Regions from separate parts of the Homo sapiens genome. Here region 2 is linked to region 1. The links come from fine-mapping of genetic effects on gene expression. A gene starts in region 1. The other region holds a variant in brackets. All regions are shown on one strand. Distances are between the middles of the regions.

Region 1 (8,349 bases):
CAAGTAAGGGAGGCCCACCAAAGTCAAAGCTCCAGAAACTGCAATGAAGAATTACAAAACAGGGTAAAGCAGCCAGGGATAACAATACCCATTCGAAAGCTTGGATAGGTTAGGCACAGAATATTAGCAACTCACATAAAATAATTAAAATTCAGAGTTTGGAGGTGTCCCTTGGCATGGCAATCCAGACACCAAAAAACTAAATAAAAGTTTCAGAAAGACAAGAAAAAGCAGTGATTAGAGCTGAGACGTTAACAGATTGGATAAAATGTACAAAAGGATGAAATGGCCAATGTTCAGAACCCTGGCAGAATGAGGGCTAACAACAAGAGAAATTTGATAGTAGGCTAAGATTGCTGAAGAAAAGAACATTTTATCCTGATACTTTCCCTATGCAGGAGCAAAGGCCTCTATGGAGAGTCCAGAGACCACAGCTGACCACCAATAGTTACTCCTAATGGCAGTAGAGATATAAAGGATGGTAGGCAAAGGTCTCACATAGTAAGTAGGACTCTCAGGTGTTCTTATTTCTTTATGAGATGCATACATCAAATTAATGCAGCATCCTACATAACATAGAGACATCTATTTTCTGAGTCCAGATATGCAGAAAAAGTCTTATGGGAAAAAAAAAAAAAAAGCCTCACTACTCTAAGATCAAGGGCTGTGAATTTGTTGACTTTCAGTAGCCAATACCTGATTTGATTTTAAATAATTTTAAATGCCCTGAGCTGTACATTTTAACTATTTTTATACACCAAACAGTAATGCTTTTTCAACACCATTGCTAAGCTTGAGTTTGAATTTCAAACACCTTTGATTTATAATTCCTATATACTGGGAACTATATTTATTTCAATCTCAATTGAAAATAATTAAATCCTTAAAATTTTTTGAAACTCTTTAAATTATAGAATACCAACCCAAATATAAAGTTTTTTAAGTTAAGTTTTGGAAAAGTGAAATTTGTATCATCTAAAATGGGTCCAATCTTTTTTTCCTACTGCAACAATATGTTCTAGTATAAAGGGCAAACGGTATGCATATCATTAAAAACAAACAAACAAACAAAAGTAAATCATTTCATCTGTTGCCCACCTACCCTTAGCTTCACACCAACCCCTGTACTGCATATATAATGAGAATCTTTGCCTCAGTTGAGAATCACTGACACACAGGCTAGGTAAGTAAATTCAACCTGCAAAAAGAACTTGAAAATTAAGTCACATAATACTGAAACATTGGTTATTGGACAACACACCTTTCATAAAGGAAGCCAAGGCCATCTTATTCATTATCCTTTGTGTTATGTTACTGACTGGTGTATATGCCACTACCAGGCCAGAGTCATTAAACTGATCCACGCTTCCCAGGACTTTAGGAGGTTGTTCAGGAAAACGGGTAGCTCTGAAGTGTTCCGAAAAGATGCACAAATATAGCCCTAGAAACAATGTTATTGTCCATTCCTCCAGCACACAAAAGAGAAATGAGCCATGTTATAACGTGGTCCAGACCAGTGAGAAACATCCAAACACATTTTTAAGGCAGAATGTATTGCCATTGAGCATGACTTCATTTCAGTCTGTAATTTTTTTCTGCCCAAATTAATATCTACCTTTTAAAGAAAAAAACACCCTTTCAAAAATACACAACTTTTGAGATAATATCAACAATTGCAATCAATCTTAACCCAGTGATTTAGCACCCCTATTAGTGGGACTGCCATTGATTTTATGCCCTCATATTTGAAGCAACGTAAGTATATGGCATCACACAGAAGATACTCTTGCCAAAAATATTTAACCAGAATTGGATCCTGCTTTTAGATCCAGCTCACTGCTTACAAAAAATATAGATGATAAAGGGATGACTTAAATGACAGCATGGAGAGGCAATCAGATAAAAAGAGAACATGGAATATTCAACAGGATAACTAGTTTTGTCTCATTGGTTCCTGAACAAATCAACCTTAAAAGACATTTTGGGGGAAATTTGGAAAATTGAATTTGGCCATGGAACTAGATGATATGGAATTATTTTTAATTTTGTGTAGTGGGATAGTGGTAATGTAGGGAACCAAGTTCTTAATTTTTTGAGATACTAAAATATTTAGCCATTACATATATTTTAGGGAAGAAGAGGAGACAGAGAGATGAAGCAAAGATGGCAAGATGTTAACAGCTGTCAAATCTGGATGGTGGATGTATAGGTGTTCATTGTACCAATATTTTCACATTTCTGGATTGACATACTTTTTTTAAATTCTAGTGAGTAATAAATATAGATGTATCCTTCTTCAATATACGAAGCAAAATATTTGATCGAACTGCTTCGGAAGCTATTGCAGAAATTTAAAAGGATGATATAAATCCTGTTAGCTCCCACTGAAATGGTACTGACTATTTCTGAACAGACTGCAATCTCTACATGGTCAAGGCAGATCCAGTTATATCTCATAGTAACACAAAGCAATGTCTTAATATTCATGTCAGCATACAAGAAACTCAACAGAATGCAAAGGTATTGACAATCTGTGATCTTATTCCATGAAACCATTCTATGTTTACAAAAAGCACGGCTTTGAAGAGATTCCAAAAAAGTTTGCAGATTTTTACTCATAGATATTTTCCCAGCCTTACCAAATAACATGACATTAATCGAAATGTCCCCAAATAGTATCAGGGTTTGCCCACGTAAAAATCTATTTTATTTTGCCTAGCTTATCTTTCCCCTGGCTGTCCCTGCCCCCAACACAGAAGTTAGCTAAGAGTAAATCAGAATGACTCTGAGATTTGAATGCATTAATTATGTGGAAAATGGCTGGTTCTATTCTGCAAAAGATTATTTTTCAGGAGCTGTCAGATGAGCTTTTTAGTTAATTTCACATTTGACACAAATATTATCCTATTTTGCAAAATATATATCGTTTTGCAGTATTTAGAATCTCAAATCAACTAGCCAGTATGATAATTAAAAATCAGAATTTATAAACAAGAAAAGTAATAAAAATGGCATAATACTATATGGTGGATTTTCATTTATTAATTATGGATATATATATATATATATAGTGAATCATACCAATAAACTCTCTTTTTATTCTCCATTTTTTAAGAAAATTCTTGTACAGAAGAGCCTGAATTTGTTGACGCACGCTTATCTCTTTTTTAACCATTTTGTCCTGTTCATTAACAGGGTAAAGTAAATATTGCAGAGCAATAGCTAGGGGAAAAAAGAAAAAAAAAAAGTTCAGTTACAGAAAGCCTTTGAACATTTTGAAAGCATAATTTTCAGATGTGCCAACTAAATGCCTTATATGACACTGTAGCAACATATTCAATCAGGATTTTAAAAAAGAATATAAAGTATTAGTAATTATAAAATGTCTTCTCAGTTGTTATTTCTCTCCAGGCTTTTATGGCTATGAGGGAGATAAAGGAGATAGTATATAAGACCTTTCTCCTTTTGTCTCAGAAGTCACTTTTTTTCCATGAAATCTTAACATTACATCCACCTAAAGTAAATCCCTCAATAAGATCTTAGTAATTTTTAGAATCCAAAAAACACTTTCTCTTTACTTGTTAAGAAAAAGAAGTTTAACAGGAAGAAACCACTTTGCAGTTCCTTGTCAGTCAGCAATTTGACCACAAGCTGTCTTATTTTGAATTGCACATCTGGGCACATGTATTTGATATCTTGTTAACCACTGGGCAAAGCAAAGTCGAAAACATTACGGCCATTCTTAGAATCCCAAAAAGCTAATTCCTCTTTTTTAAATCTCCATTTATGAAGTAAATATGTAAGATACATACAGATTAAAACCAAAAATATTGGCTAATATGACTAGAGTAATTGATTTGTAATAATGATCCTTATTCTTTGTTTTCAATTTGAAAATCCAGAGCTGATCATTTGGTGTCACAACTATGACTACTGAAGTCCATTTGAATAAATGTTGATATTATATACAAATTACAATGTTCAGAGAGAACTTGCTATATTTCCCCTTTTTCATAAAATAAAAGGCAAAGCCAGCAAAACCCAATATAATCTCTAAATTCTAACTTAAGAAAGTAGAAACATTAAAACACCAATCTTCACTTTATGGATACAGAGGTCTACTTAAACAGCTCCATAAGCAAACCACAAAAACATTTTAAAAGAACAAAAGAACACAGAAAAAAGGAACTTGCCCTAATGCTCACACATTCTAAAGAAGTAAAACCATACAAATTCTCAAAAGGATATTCAAAGCAGTGTCAGAGAGAGAATTTATTGTCTGATAATATTTATATACACCTCTGAATCTAGCCATCTTTCATTTATCACACTAAAATGTTACATAAGTTTTTAAAATAAAATAACTCACTAGTACTATAACATAAAGCATAAAATAATTTAGAGCATCTGAATAATATAATTTTAAAAATTTCAATCAATATGTTTGGCTTTGGCTATATACTTTATATCTTTAAAACCTTATGCAAAGTGAAAATGTAAAACAAATTTTAACTTACAGTTAAGAAAATAAGAGAGAAGTATTTGAAGCACTTGGATCCACTGGTCTCTTTTTGTCCAAGAAAACAATGAAGAATCCTTCAAGGACTCCTCTACAAATGGTTGCCTCTTTTAAAACTGTTTTGATTCAGCTTGGCTTCTGAAAAGCCATGGTCTGTGTGTAGAACATGCCAACAAATTCTGTTGGTTTTTTCCCTATGTTTTTCTCCTTGTCCAGTTACTCTTCAGAGAGTGTAATGAATTGTTGGCTGAGCGCATCATTGGTATTTGTTTATTGCTCTTTTTGGCATACACACAAAAAAAGAGATCAAATTCAAAAAGAAAAACCCACATATTTACAATTGCATGGATAACTACATATTTACAATTGCATGACTTTTAATAATTAAAAATTTGACAGCCAAGCTAAAAAAGGAGCAAATTAAAGATAAAGTTGAACAGAGAGAGAGAAAATGAGGATTGCTCATCTCAGAAATCTGAATCATTCCAATGAGAAAGTTTCATCTGAAAGTTAACTGCATTTCAGTTAAATGGTTCCTTGTATTCACTAATTCCTATGTACTAGAAAGTGTTCTAAGGGTTTAAATGAATTCTCCCATTTGATACTCAAAGCAAACCTACAAAGTTGGTACTCTACTCACATCCATTAAACAAATTTGAAAGGTGGGGCTAACAGGTGAAGTTATTTGCAGATGTTTAAATAAGTGTGAAGCCAACAGATGAGTCCAGAATAGTATCTGGACTCCAAGATCCCTCACTCTTAACTACCACTATGAAAATGGTGCTAATCAAGACAATGATATCTGATACCCATTTAAAAAGTGTAGTGGTATAGACTAGATGGCATAACTTTAATGATTTTGTTACTTTTTTTTCAGCTACAACTAAATTGGATATTCTCAGAATGGCAAATAATGCCTCTTTATCAACCCTGAAAATCTTTTTATGTGATTTTAACTATAATAATACACTTCTTGGTATGCATACAGAAGCTAATGCCCATTCATGAAAGTGACAGAGACAGAAAGGGTAAAGGACTCAGAGACTCTTCAAATGATTACCATTTTCATTAGGAATATGGAAATAAATGGTTCCTTTAATTGTAAATGTCACTAACAACAAAGGAAGCATACTTTAATTGCTTTCCTTTGTTGTTAGTGACATTTCTCTTCCTATTCAGGCAAAATCATTACTAGAAGTAAAAGTTCATGAAATAGAAAACATGAAACTTAACCTGGTTCCGATCCCAGACATTAATGGTAATATTCACTTAAATGGGTGGGGAAAACAATTAAAATCATACTATAATACAGACATACACCCTTCTTAATCACCAAATTTTTAAAATATTTTTTATTTCCATAATTGCTGTGATTTGAATGTCTCCTCTAAAATTCATGTTAAAATTTAATTACCAATGAAACAGCATTGAGAAGTGTAGCCTTTAGAAGTGGTGATTAGGTCATGAGGGCTCCACCCTCATAAATGGATTAACACTATTATCTTGGGAATGGGCTCCTGATAAAAGGATGAGTTAGGCCCAATTCTCTCTCTCTCTGTCTCATGCACATGCTTCCACCTTTCACCTTTCCACTGTGGGATGACCCTCACCAGATATCAGTGCCATGCTCTTGGACTTCTCGGCTTCCAGAACTGTGAGAAATAAGTTTCTTTTCTTTATAAATTACCCAGTCTGCTGGGTACAACTAAATCTGTGGTGTTCTGTTATAGCAATAAAAAACAAGCTAAGACAATAATTTTAGGGATTTCAATCTCCAATACGGTACAGTTGGGAGTCTGAGACCTGCATTGCAGACTTGTCACTCATTGTCTGTGTCCCTTGGAGAGGTCATATAAAATCCTCAGGTCTCTGTTACACATTTATAATAGGATTTGGACCCTTTTCATTCTTAGCCTTTACATATTTATAATTATACAGTTCTGCTACAGAGTCAGAATGTTGAAATACTCCAGATTTAGGCTTATGCACATCCACGTTACATAATACCAACTAGCACCTCCTCATCAAACTCTTCCTTACTCTTGAGTCCTTGACCCCTGAAAGCACGATGGCTTTCAGCAGGTAAATGTACTATATTAATGAACAATCAGAGGCAATTTGGCAGAAGTTTTCCTCCACATACCTCTATTTCATTCTAATTTCCCAGAGGAAACTCAGCCAATTTTTTCTAAACTCAACACCACTGCAGAATCCTTCGATCAAATTCTATTACCTAATCTAAAAATCTAGCTCTCTTGGTTATCTCTTTTTATTTTATTGTTAATTTCTATTACAATCTCTTCTCTCCTTCCATCTTTCTTTACATATGACTGGCAATTACATATGAGAAAATATTGTCACTGCCAGCTTTCTTAAGCTACCTTATCTTATAAAATATCTTATAAACTAGCTCATCTTCTTACATTCCCTGCCCAAATTTCCATTGTATTAGTTTCCTAGGGCTGCCATAACAAAGTACCACAAACTGGGTACCTTAGAAATTGATTTGCTCAAAGTGTCAGAGTCCGGAAGTCCAAAAATCATTGTCCTATCTGAAAAGCCATGCTCTCTCTCCCAGCTTCTGGTGATTGCCAGCAACCCTTGTCATTCCTTGACTTGCAGATACGTAACTCTAATATCTGTGTTGTCATTACGTGGCATTCTCTCTTCTATGTGCCTGTGTCTTCAAATGGCATTCTCCTGTGTATTTGTCTCTTTCATTCTACTAATTTTGAGTTAGTTTGCTCCTGTTATTCTAGTTTCTTGAGTTGCCATGTTAGGTTATTTGAGATCTTTCTACTTTTTTGATGTAGGCAAGTATTGCTATAAACTTCCCTCTTAAAACTGCTTTTGCTGTATCCCTTTGGTTCTAGTATATCATGTTCCCCCTTTTTGACTCAAGAATGTTCTAAATATTTTCCTTTTTAATTGCTCCATTGACCCATTAGTGGCTCATGAGGATGTTGTTTAATGTCCGTGTATTTGTACCATTTCCAATGTTCCTCCTGTTATTGATTTCTAGTTTTATTCCATTGTGGTCAGAAAAGCTACTTGATGTAATTTTGATTCTTTTAAACTTGATGAGACTTGTTCTGTGGCCTAACATATGACCTTTCCTGGAGAATATTCCATGTGCTGTTGAGAAGAATGTGTATTCTGCAGCTGTTGGACAGAATGTTTTATAAATGTCTGTTATATCCATCTGGTCTAATATGTGGTTTAATTATAATGTTTCTTTGGGATTTTCTGTCTGGATGATCTGTCTATTCCAGTTCCTTACAATTATTTATTGCAGTATATTTGTCCTTTTAGATCTATTTATATTTGCTTTATATATTTCGGTACTCTTATGTTGAGTACATATGTATTTATAATTATTATATCCTGTTGCTGTACTGGCCTCTTTATCATTATATAATGGCTTTATCTCATTTTAAAGTTTTGGTTATTTTATCAGATATAAGTATAGCTACTCCTACTCTTTTTTTTGTTTCTATGTGCATAAAATATCTTTTTCCATCTCTTCATTTTCAATCTATGTGTCTCTTTACAAGTGTAGTGAGTCTTTTGTAGGCAGCAGATAGTTGGGTCTTGTTTTTTATTCAATCAGCCACTTTATGTCTTTTGATTGAAGAATGTATTTCATTTATATTCAAGTTAATTATTGATAGATGAGGGCTTACTGCTGCCATTTTGATACCTGTTTTCTAGTTGTTTTGTGGACCCTTTCTTCTCTTACAATCTTCCTTTGTGTGTAAATGATTTTCTCTAGTAGTGTTTTGATTTCTTGCTTTGTATTTTTAATATATCTATTATAGGTTTTTGCTTTG
Region 2 (8,349 bases), 140 kb before region 1:
AGAACTAGAAAGTCATCTATCTAGCATGGAAGGAACAAAGCAGAGATATATATTATGATATATATTATGTCAAACACAATGAGCTAGGCACTGTTCTAGGCACTTAAAATATTTACTCATTTAATCCTAACAACATGGCCAAGTGGGCACTAATAGTATCCATCATTGCAGAGACGAACCATCTAGATATGCAGGGATTGAGTACCTCACCCAACGTCACCCAGCTAGTAAGCAGCATGCCTGGGCTGAGAACCCAGAAAGATGGGCTCTAAAGTTTGAGCTCTTCACCATTATGCTGTGCTGAGAAATTACACCCAATGGTCTGCTGTTGGGAATGACGGGGTTGAAAGCAGAGAAAATGATGACAGGAGAGAGAGTGTGGACAATTACAACCAGCAAAAGGAGTTACACACAATGCAGGGGACGGTCAAAGCTATCATTCAAATAGGAAGGCCAAATACACCTGCACAGACACAAGGAGGTTGATGGATGGATGGAAACTTTCTCTGTTGCTTCTATTTTATTAGTGAAATATAAAGCAAGGGCATCAACTGAGGGATAAAAGTGGGAAGGAGGTGGATATGTAAGGAAAGAAAGGGAGTAAAGTAATAATTTGGGACACTTGGTGTGAATGGATTATATACATGTAGGCAAAGCAGGCCACACAGAGGGGCTTTTAGAGGGGGATGCCATGGTTTCACAGTAAGAACAGTTAAGCATGTGTGTTTCCTGCAGCTTCGGTCCCTGCACTGGAGATTAACCTCTTTTCACAGAGTCAGAGTAACCTAAATTGGGATTAAATCTCACCATTACCTACAGTTAGAATTCTTAAAAATCATGCCCTACAGCCCTATTTTAAAAAATTGTTACACAATTAGCTTCCATTAAATTATTATTTTAGTATTAGTTGATTCTTCAAAAGATTTATTTGAATGTGGTCACTCTTACCTGCTTCTAATTTGTGAAAGGTCTGTGATAGAGGGTAAACGTCTGCCACGGGCAGCTTATAGGTTAACAAAGAGGAATACCTGAAAACAGGAAGATGTCGTTTTCAGCTCTGAGTTTCAAGGGGAGAAAATGAGCATCAGAATAAATATTGATATTACCAACAATTTTCTTCTTAAAATAAAAGTAATGCAAATTAATGTATGGCTTAAATATGAAATCACAGCATTGTTTTGAATTGCTTTTTGGTATCTGGCTGTTGCAGACAGCTCTCCTGGTAATAACTCAGCATAATTATATATGTGCTCAGCTTATGCAAAACCTTTGCGTGTTGAAAATCAGGTATTCTGAACTATTCCCTTTGATTAGTTCGAATTAGGTTGGGAATTAACCCCAAAATAAATGTTCATCTTTGTCATCAGAAAGCTAATTCATTGTTTTGTTTTTTTTAATGAATGAATTTTTTCTTTATTTCTTACATTTCCAGCAATTTGCTTTACATTTACAATGGAAAATATAAACACTTAAACAAAAGTAAATTCAGGACTATTTTGTAAAACCATAAATAGTGGCAAATCTTGGAGATGGAGGTTGATATTGGCGAAAGATCTGTAAGGAAGACATATTTATTCTGAAGGCTTTTTCTAGGCCCTAGGGCAATCTAGAAGTAAGGAAATCAATAGAGCTTGGGCTGCCAACCAAAAAACCTCGGAATCTCCTTGATTCCCCCTCCTCCCAGAAGTCTAACTTGTAAAGAATAATATGAGGTTGGGAGAGTTGGAGATTGCAGTAGAGGAAGGACATAAAACACTTTAACAAAATACTTCCTGACCTCTAAGGAAGAGACGTAATTGATTTGGGGCATCTTGCTTCCGTGTGCTACTTCTGGCTGTAAACCCTCATGCCCTATTCCCAGCTTATTCCCAAACAGGGGTTTGGTGCTCCCAGGTGGCACTAAGGTTGACCAGATGTCCAAGATTGGCCCTTTTCAGACCAGCCACTGCTCTTTCTGTTTTATCATTTTTGATCTTCCCACCTATATCAGAACCACTTCTCTGATTTGTGACACCAAACGTCTGGGAATGGGACAAAGTTACATGTTCTGATATCTATCTTAGAAAATTTAATTACATTTACACTGTGCTAAAATAAAATAGTAGCTTTTATGTCCTATTTTTTGATGTACTTATCTCTCCACGGGAATTTCAAATTCAGTTTCTGCTCCACCTTCTTGCCCTCCCCCAAATAACATACAGACATACACAAACACACACACACACACACACACACACACACACACAGATATGTGGGCATGCACACACACATACACACATACCCCTTTCCACTCTCTATTTTAAGGTATGAAAATTCCATTAAAGAAAGACTCTTTGATTATCTCAATTGCCATTTGTTTCCTATGGGGAAAATTCACCCTAAATATTTACATCTTTTAAATTTTAAATATTTATATATGTTAAGCGTTTATGAGGAGGCCCAGGAAGGACACCATTGTGGTCCTGTGTGGGTTTGAGTCATTAGAAGTTCCTTCTCCCAAGTCTTTCCAAGTACCCCTCTGGAGCTGGGGATCAGCCTGGGATGGCCAAGGAGAGTGTGCCTGGTCTGCCCCAGGGGACACAGCTTCCTGGGTAGGTCTCAATCTCTTATAATCTGGAATACTGAACAAATCCTTTTCTGAGGTCCCTAACTTTTATTATGAAGCCAAATCACTATGAAGTTCTCACACAGCAAAAAGGAAACCACTGAGTGGATAAACCCTCCATATTTCTCCATAATCAAAAGCCCGTCTCACCTTTCCTGCCCTGCAGCCTGTGGGAAAAGCTTCAGAATCTCAGTGTGGACCAAAGTCACTTGAGACGTTTCCTTCACTTTTAGCTCTAGAATGTAATCCTTGCCAAGTTTGTTTTTCAGGTGTTGGATGGAGCCAATGCATCTATGGGCAAGAAAGAGAATATGTTGGAAAAAATATTGCCCTTAATTTTTTAATGTTATTCTTAAATTTCAAATGTAGAAGAAAAGGTGTCACCAAGGAAGCCAAACGGAAGGGCTCCAGCCACACACAGGGATTTTTGCCCTTTCCATGGGAAATCTCATTTTGAGCATCAAATGCAGGCTTCGGAGAGACACCCACCTAAGCCTTCCAGACACCATGATGGCCACACGGTCACACAAGGCTTCCGCCTCAGCCAGGTTATGGGTGGTCAGGAGGACACCTCTCTCTGTGTTTTTAACGACTGCCTGGATTGCCTGCCTGCAGTGAGCAAAAAAATTAACAGTATTTAAAATAACTAAGTGCAGAAGAAAAAAAAGATAAAATACAATATATGAATCATATTCAGATCCTAATGCAAAAAAATAGTGCAATGTAAGTACTGACTAGGTTTTTGATAACATAAATAACATTTTTAAGTATTTTTAGATGTGCTAATCATATTGTAGTTGAGTTATCTTCTGAAGATACTAACTGAAATATTTATAAATTAAAGAATATGTTGCTTTGTATTTCCTTCAAAATAATTGGAGGGTGGAGAAAGGAAGTGGGTGGAGATATAGATCAAAGGAGATTGGTTCTATTGATACCTGCTGAAACTTGTCCATGGGAATAATGGATTCATAAGCGATTCTCTACATTTGTATAAAATTACCATAACAAAGTTTTTGTTAAAGTTGGAAAAGTATCGGACAGTGACCAATATGAAACTAGATTGAAGATTTTATTATTCCAAAGGGTAAATCCTAGATGGGAAAAGTAAGTAAAAGAATAAACCCGAGAAAAACTGGAGGAACAAATTTGACAGGTCACATTAAAAAGGAAAAAAAACAAACAGGAAAATTGTGTCAGGAAGTTAATAGTCTCCCAGGAAACAAAGTAGAAGGGAAAAAAGAAGAAACAGTTATAGACATCTCAATAATTAAAAGGCAAAATATTTTTGTATTTTAACAGTCCACATTAAAAACCTAAAACCCCAAGAAAATGTTGGGTCTTTTTAACCTGAATACCACGTGAACATCATGCAGATTAGATCATCTACTGGTTAAATATTTGTTTTCCTGATAATATAAATTATTTCCACTGAATCAGGAACTAGTGGGTTTGAGGGCTGATTTTCCAAGACCAGTTAAAATATGCAACCTTCCCTAATGTGCATGCTCGCAGCTCTGGGGTATAATGATGCTCACCACATTTGCTGCTGCCCTGTGGGGTCTATGCCCGTAGATGGTTCATCCAGGAGCAAGACAGGTGAGTTTCCCAGGAGGCTCAGCACAAAACACAACTGCAATGTAGAAAAACACCCCTGTTTGCTGCCATACCACACCAGCTCTCCATAGAGCATCACACACCGCACGTACCTTTCTCGTGATTCCTGCTGTTAATTTCTGCACAGGAACATTCAGCTGCTCATGCAGTTTGAAAGCACTCACTAATCTGACAGAAAACAGAATGAGAATATCTGGTCAAGACAAGGTTTTTGGAAAATCCAAGCACACAGAACAGTAACAGCATTAGAGGGAAGTTTAGTAATATTATTGTCAAAATCCTAACTCATAATTTTAAAAAAGAGATTGGTTTATTTTGGAACATGAAAGACTTTTTTTTTTTTTTGCCTCATAAACAGTTTTAGGAAAAACTAGAATTCTGAATGAGAAACTGACAATGGATGATTATTTCATTTCCAGGTTTTTTAAATTAGAAAACTGAAATGGATGACGATTCATGGTGATTCGTTCACTTATTCCTTGTCAATTATTTTATATAATCAT[T/G]TTTTAAAGATCTCTCATTCAGGGATGCAGGAAGTCAGGTCTTGTCCCTCATCCCTGCTCTGCCACTGACACTCTGGAAAGGTGGAGATAGCATATTGACTCTCGGTTCTTTATTAGTGAATTCATCATCAGTGCTACAGTCTCCCTGCATTCTGACACAAAGGAATCGCAGGTCCCGTCTGTACCTTGCGATGGCGAGCCTCGCGTCCGCTTTCCTGAGCCCCTTGACGGCAGCATACACCTCCAGGTGTTCCCTCAACGTCAGCATGGGCCACAGCACGTTCTCTTGAGGGCAGTACCCCAGGTGGCCCAAAACTGAACTGCAGCCTTTCAGTTCCACCTAAAAAAATAAAAGAGCTTTAGAAAGGCATGCAGCCTTTATTCCAATAGCGTAATTACTCCAGAAACTGACATATATAAGCGTCTAAATTGTTTAAGCATCAAATAAATACTATAGAAATTACTTCATATATTTATTACAGAAAATGATTTAAAGTACAAATATAAAAATATAGTTTTACATGCAGAGAAGAAAAGAGACCTAATAAGCTCAGGTAGTTCTTGAGAAACTGATGAGTAAAAGGTAATTGGTTTCTGGTAAGATTCCAAGTCCTGTTATAAACACCTGATGCCCAGTAAAAATTTAAAGAGGGGAAAAATAAAATTTATCCAAAGGCAAAAAAAAAAAAAAAAGAAAAGAAAAATAGTATAGTCTTACAAAGATATAATCTATACGTATCATGAAATTCCTGTTTTGGAAATGGAAACCATTTCCTCACTACCTCTCCAGCAGTTGGCTTTGTGATCCCAGATATCATTCTAATAGATGAACTTTTTCCAGCACCATTGGGTCCTAGCAATCCCAAAATTTCACCTGAAAGAAAGAATCAGACTATCAATATTGGAAGTGAAATACTGAACAACATAAACCTTTTGCTCCAGTGAAATCTTCTGAGATTTCTGCACCCTTCAGTTAGTACCATTTTGAGATTGATAACATATATGTAATCCACGTCACCAAAGCATGTTCTTTATTTTCTGTAATTATGCCAAATGTTACTGCAAAGCTAATGAATTTGATGTCAATACATCTGTCCTTTTCCCCCCAGATTACTTGTTTCAGTTGGAAATGTGTCCAACTGTTTTCCGTAATAGATGGCCGATGCACTGAGTACATGTATGAATGATTCTCAAACTTGAGAAGTTAGGGATATTTTCTTCATCCCAAATTCAACCACCTCTGTCCAAGTTACCATCATCTTTCATCCCAACTGATATAAAAGCCTCTGAACTTGTCCCCCCCAACCCAAACTGACAAACAAACAATAGCCAATCTGTAATCTTTTCAAAATATAAATTAAATATGACACAAGTCCGCTAAAAACTCTCCAATGGTATTATGCTAACTTGTATAAAACACAAACTCATTGCTGTTTTCAAAAGCTGTACCTAATCTGGCGCTGCTCAGCTCTATAGCTTTATCCCTTCCATTTATGGATGCATTCACTGGCCTCTTGGCTAGAGACACAACGTTTCCAAATGTGTCTGAGTCCCTGCCCTCACTGTTTCCTCTACCTGGATGCTCTTTGTCTAGTGGCTTCATAATTGTATTTCCAGAGTCTAAAACACTCCCTGGCACACTAAATATATATATATATATATATATATAGAATAAATGAATGAATGCTTCAGCGAGTAAAACTGTGCCTATGACATAGATGTTCGGTAGGTAGTTCTAAAAGTAATGGTAAGTTTTAAAAGGGATTATTACAGACCTTCTTGAACACAGAAAGAGATATTTCTTGCTGCTATTTTCTTCTTCCTCTTTGAAAAGCAACTTTTCTTCTGGCCTGCATATTCTTTGTGTAGACAGCTGGCAATTATAACAGGTTTCTAGAAGAGATGACAGCATGATTTTCCTCTTAAATTTCAGAGACTTTAGGTCTCTGCTGGAACCTTTCATGCCTTATGTCATAAGCCAAACCATATTTTGAGTTGAGAGTAATTCATGCTGCTAAATGTAATATGCATTCATTAATGTAGAAAATATTTCTTGCTTCTAAATAGACTGAGTTTCATGGAAGCAGCTTATTGTCTTGCCAGAAGAGGGGTGGCTAACCTCATGGAACCATCACATCTAAGTCAAATAGAGTAAACCTTAAAATCTTAATCTCTATTTAGCATTCTTCGCATTCTTCGACAAATCTAACTTAAATTATTTAACTCATGAGGTCTTGTTGGTTTTGCAATTATAGCCCTAATTATGAAAGCCCACTTTTCTCAAAAGAAAAATTAAAACCATTAGGTTTTGTGTTCTTTTTAGCTTCTAGGACACTCTGAATAAGCGGAGTGCCTTGATTATGCAGATACTTCTTTGGAGTGTCCTGGACGCATAATACAGAAATGCACCAAACTCCAAACTCTCAAAATGAAACCCAGTGTATCAAATCCTGCTCTTGACAGTTCTTGAATATCTCCATTAATATCCATTTTGCCCCTTGCTTTTTTACCTCATCTAAGATTGAAGTGGTCAGAGCAGTGGCTGTTCTTATTCTTTCTGTTTGAATATCTTCATCTTCATCTATGGGTTCTTCTGGATTTGGCTTAGCATCTCTACTTTGGGGGGAAATTCTATGGAGAAAATGAAATGTGTTACATGTGGTATTCTAGCTGTTAAAAGATGTGTCAAAAATCAGCATTCCTGTGATTTTACTACTGTCCTCTTCTCTAATGTGCAGGTGATGATGTGATGATGACTGTCAATATTGCTTCTGCTTTTGCCAAGAACTCCTGTCCCACTAGCCAGAATCCTTTTCTTAATGTTGTTGCCATTCTTCTGGTAAGAATCTTTGACCCTTTCAAATCTGTCAGCAGGTACTGCTCCTTTCTCTTTAAAATTCATGTCACTCTCATTTTCTCTACTCAGTCTGAGCTCATCTTCATCACACCAGATGTTTTTTCAACATCATTTACTGCTCACCCTTTCTACAGCCCTCCATTTTTAAAACACTCAACTATGTTGCTAAATCGATTCCTTCCCATCTTTTCTTTTCAAGGATGCACAATTATCTCAGACGAGAGAATGGCATATTTGGGTCCTTATTAAATTTTGGATGGAGTGAAGGTTTCTTACAGCTGCTTACAGCCAGAACTCTGCCTGGGAGTTCTATCTCTTGGCAGTAAGGCAGCAATCCACATTCCCTAATGACAATCAACATGTGCTTCCACTGTAAATGTAAATCTGTATTAACAAGATGATAGCACAGACACCATCTAGGAATGTTAAAATATGATATTAAGTATAAAGTTAAATTTCACCCCAACCTGAAAACAGGATCTTTTCGCATTCTTTTCTTTCCACATTTTAGTTCCATGCATCTTAGAACAAAAACGAATAGCAAAGTCTGAAAGTAGGGCTATGAGCAAAGAAATACAGTTATATTTAGGCATAAGTTCACAAATATTATTTAAATATTTGAATTAAGTTGGTGGTGTTTTGTCTTTGGGTAAATAGTTGTGGATCATTCTCATAAGCTGGGGGAGAAATGTAGCTATACATTCACAATCCAGGTTAGTGAAACCTGTTTCCTTTCTTCTCGCCACCCATATTCAGTTTGTAAGTAA

Direction of the effects. Alleles are on the strand shown, and positions count from the first base shown. SD is a standard deviation of normalised expression in the study named.
As copies of G replace T in region 2, the expression in hippocampus of the gene that starts at base 4,761 in region 1 goes down (moderate effect, 0.42 SD a copy in GTEx).

Evidence for each region.
Region 2: its variant is fine-mapped to the expression of ABCA10 in hippocampus (GTEx, PIP 0.99).

The regions. Positions count from the first base shown.
Region 1 is chr17:69,224,064-69,232,412 of GRCh38, forward strand. It overlaps ABCA10 (ATP binding cassette subfamily A member 10), which reads right to left and starts at 4,761. Exons shown (of 39, transcript NM_001377321.1): 1 at 4,518-4,761; 2 at 3,082-3,222; 3 at 1,262-1,466. The coding sequence starts at 1,295.
Region 2 is chr17:69,080,118-69,088,466 of GRCh38, forward strand. It overlaps ABCA6 (ATP binding cassette subfamily A member 6), which reads right to left. Exons shown (of 39, transcript NM_080284.3): 28 at 8,050-8,141; 29 at 7,236-7,356; 30 at 6,501-6,618; 31 at 5,508-5,599; 32 at 4,911-5,065; 33 at 4,315-4,390; 34 at 4,144-4,238; 35 at 3,095-3,214; 36 at 2,756-2,896; 37 at 949-1,028. Among named protein-coding and RNA genes, the nearest start is that of MIR4524B, 15 kb to the right of the region's middle. The variant T/G (reference allele first, on the strand shown) is at 4,726.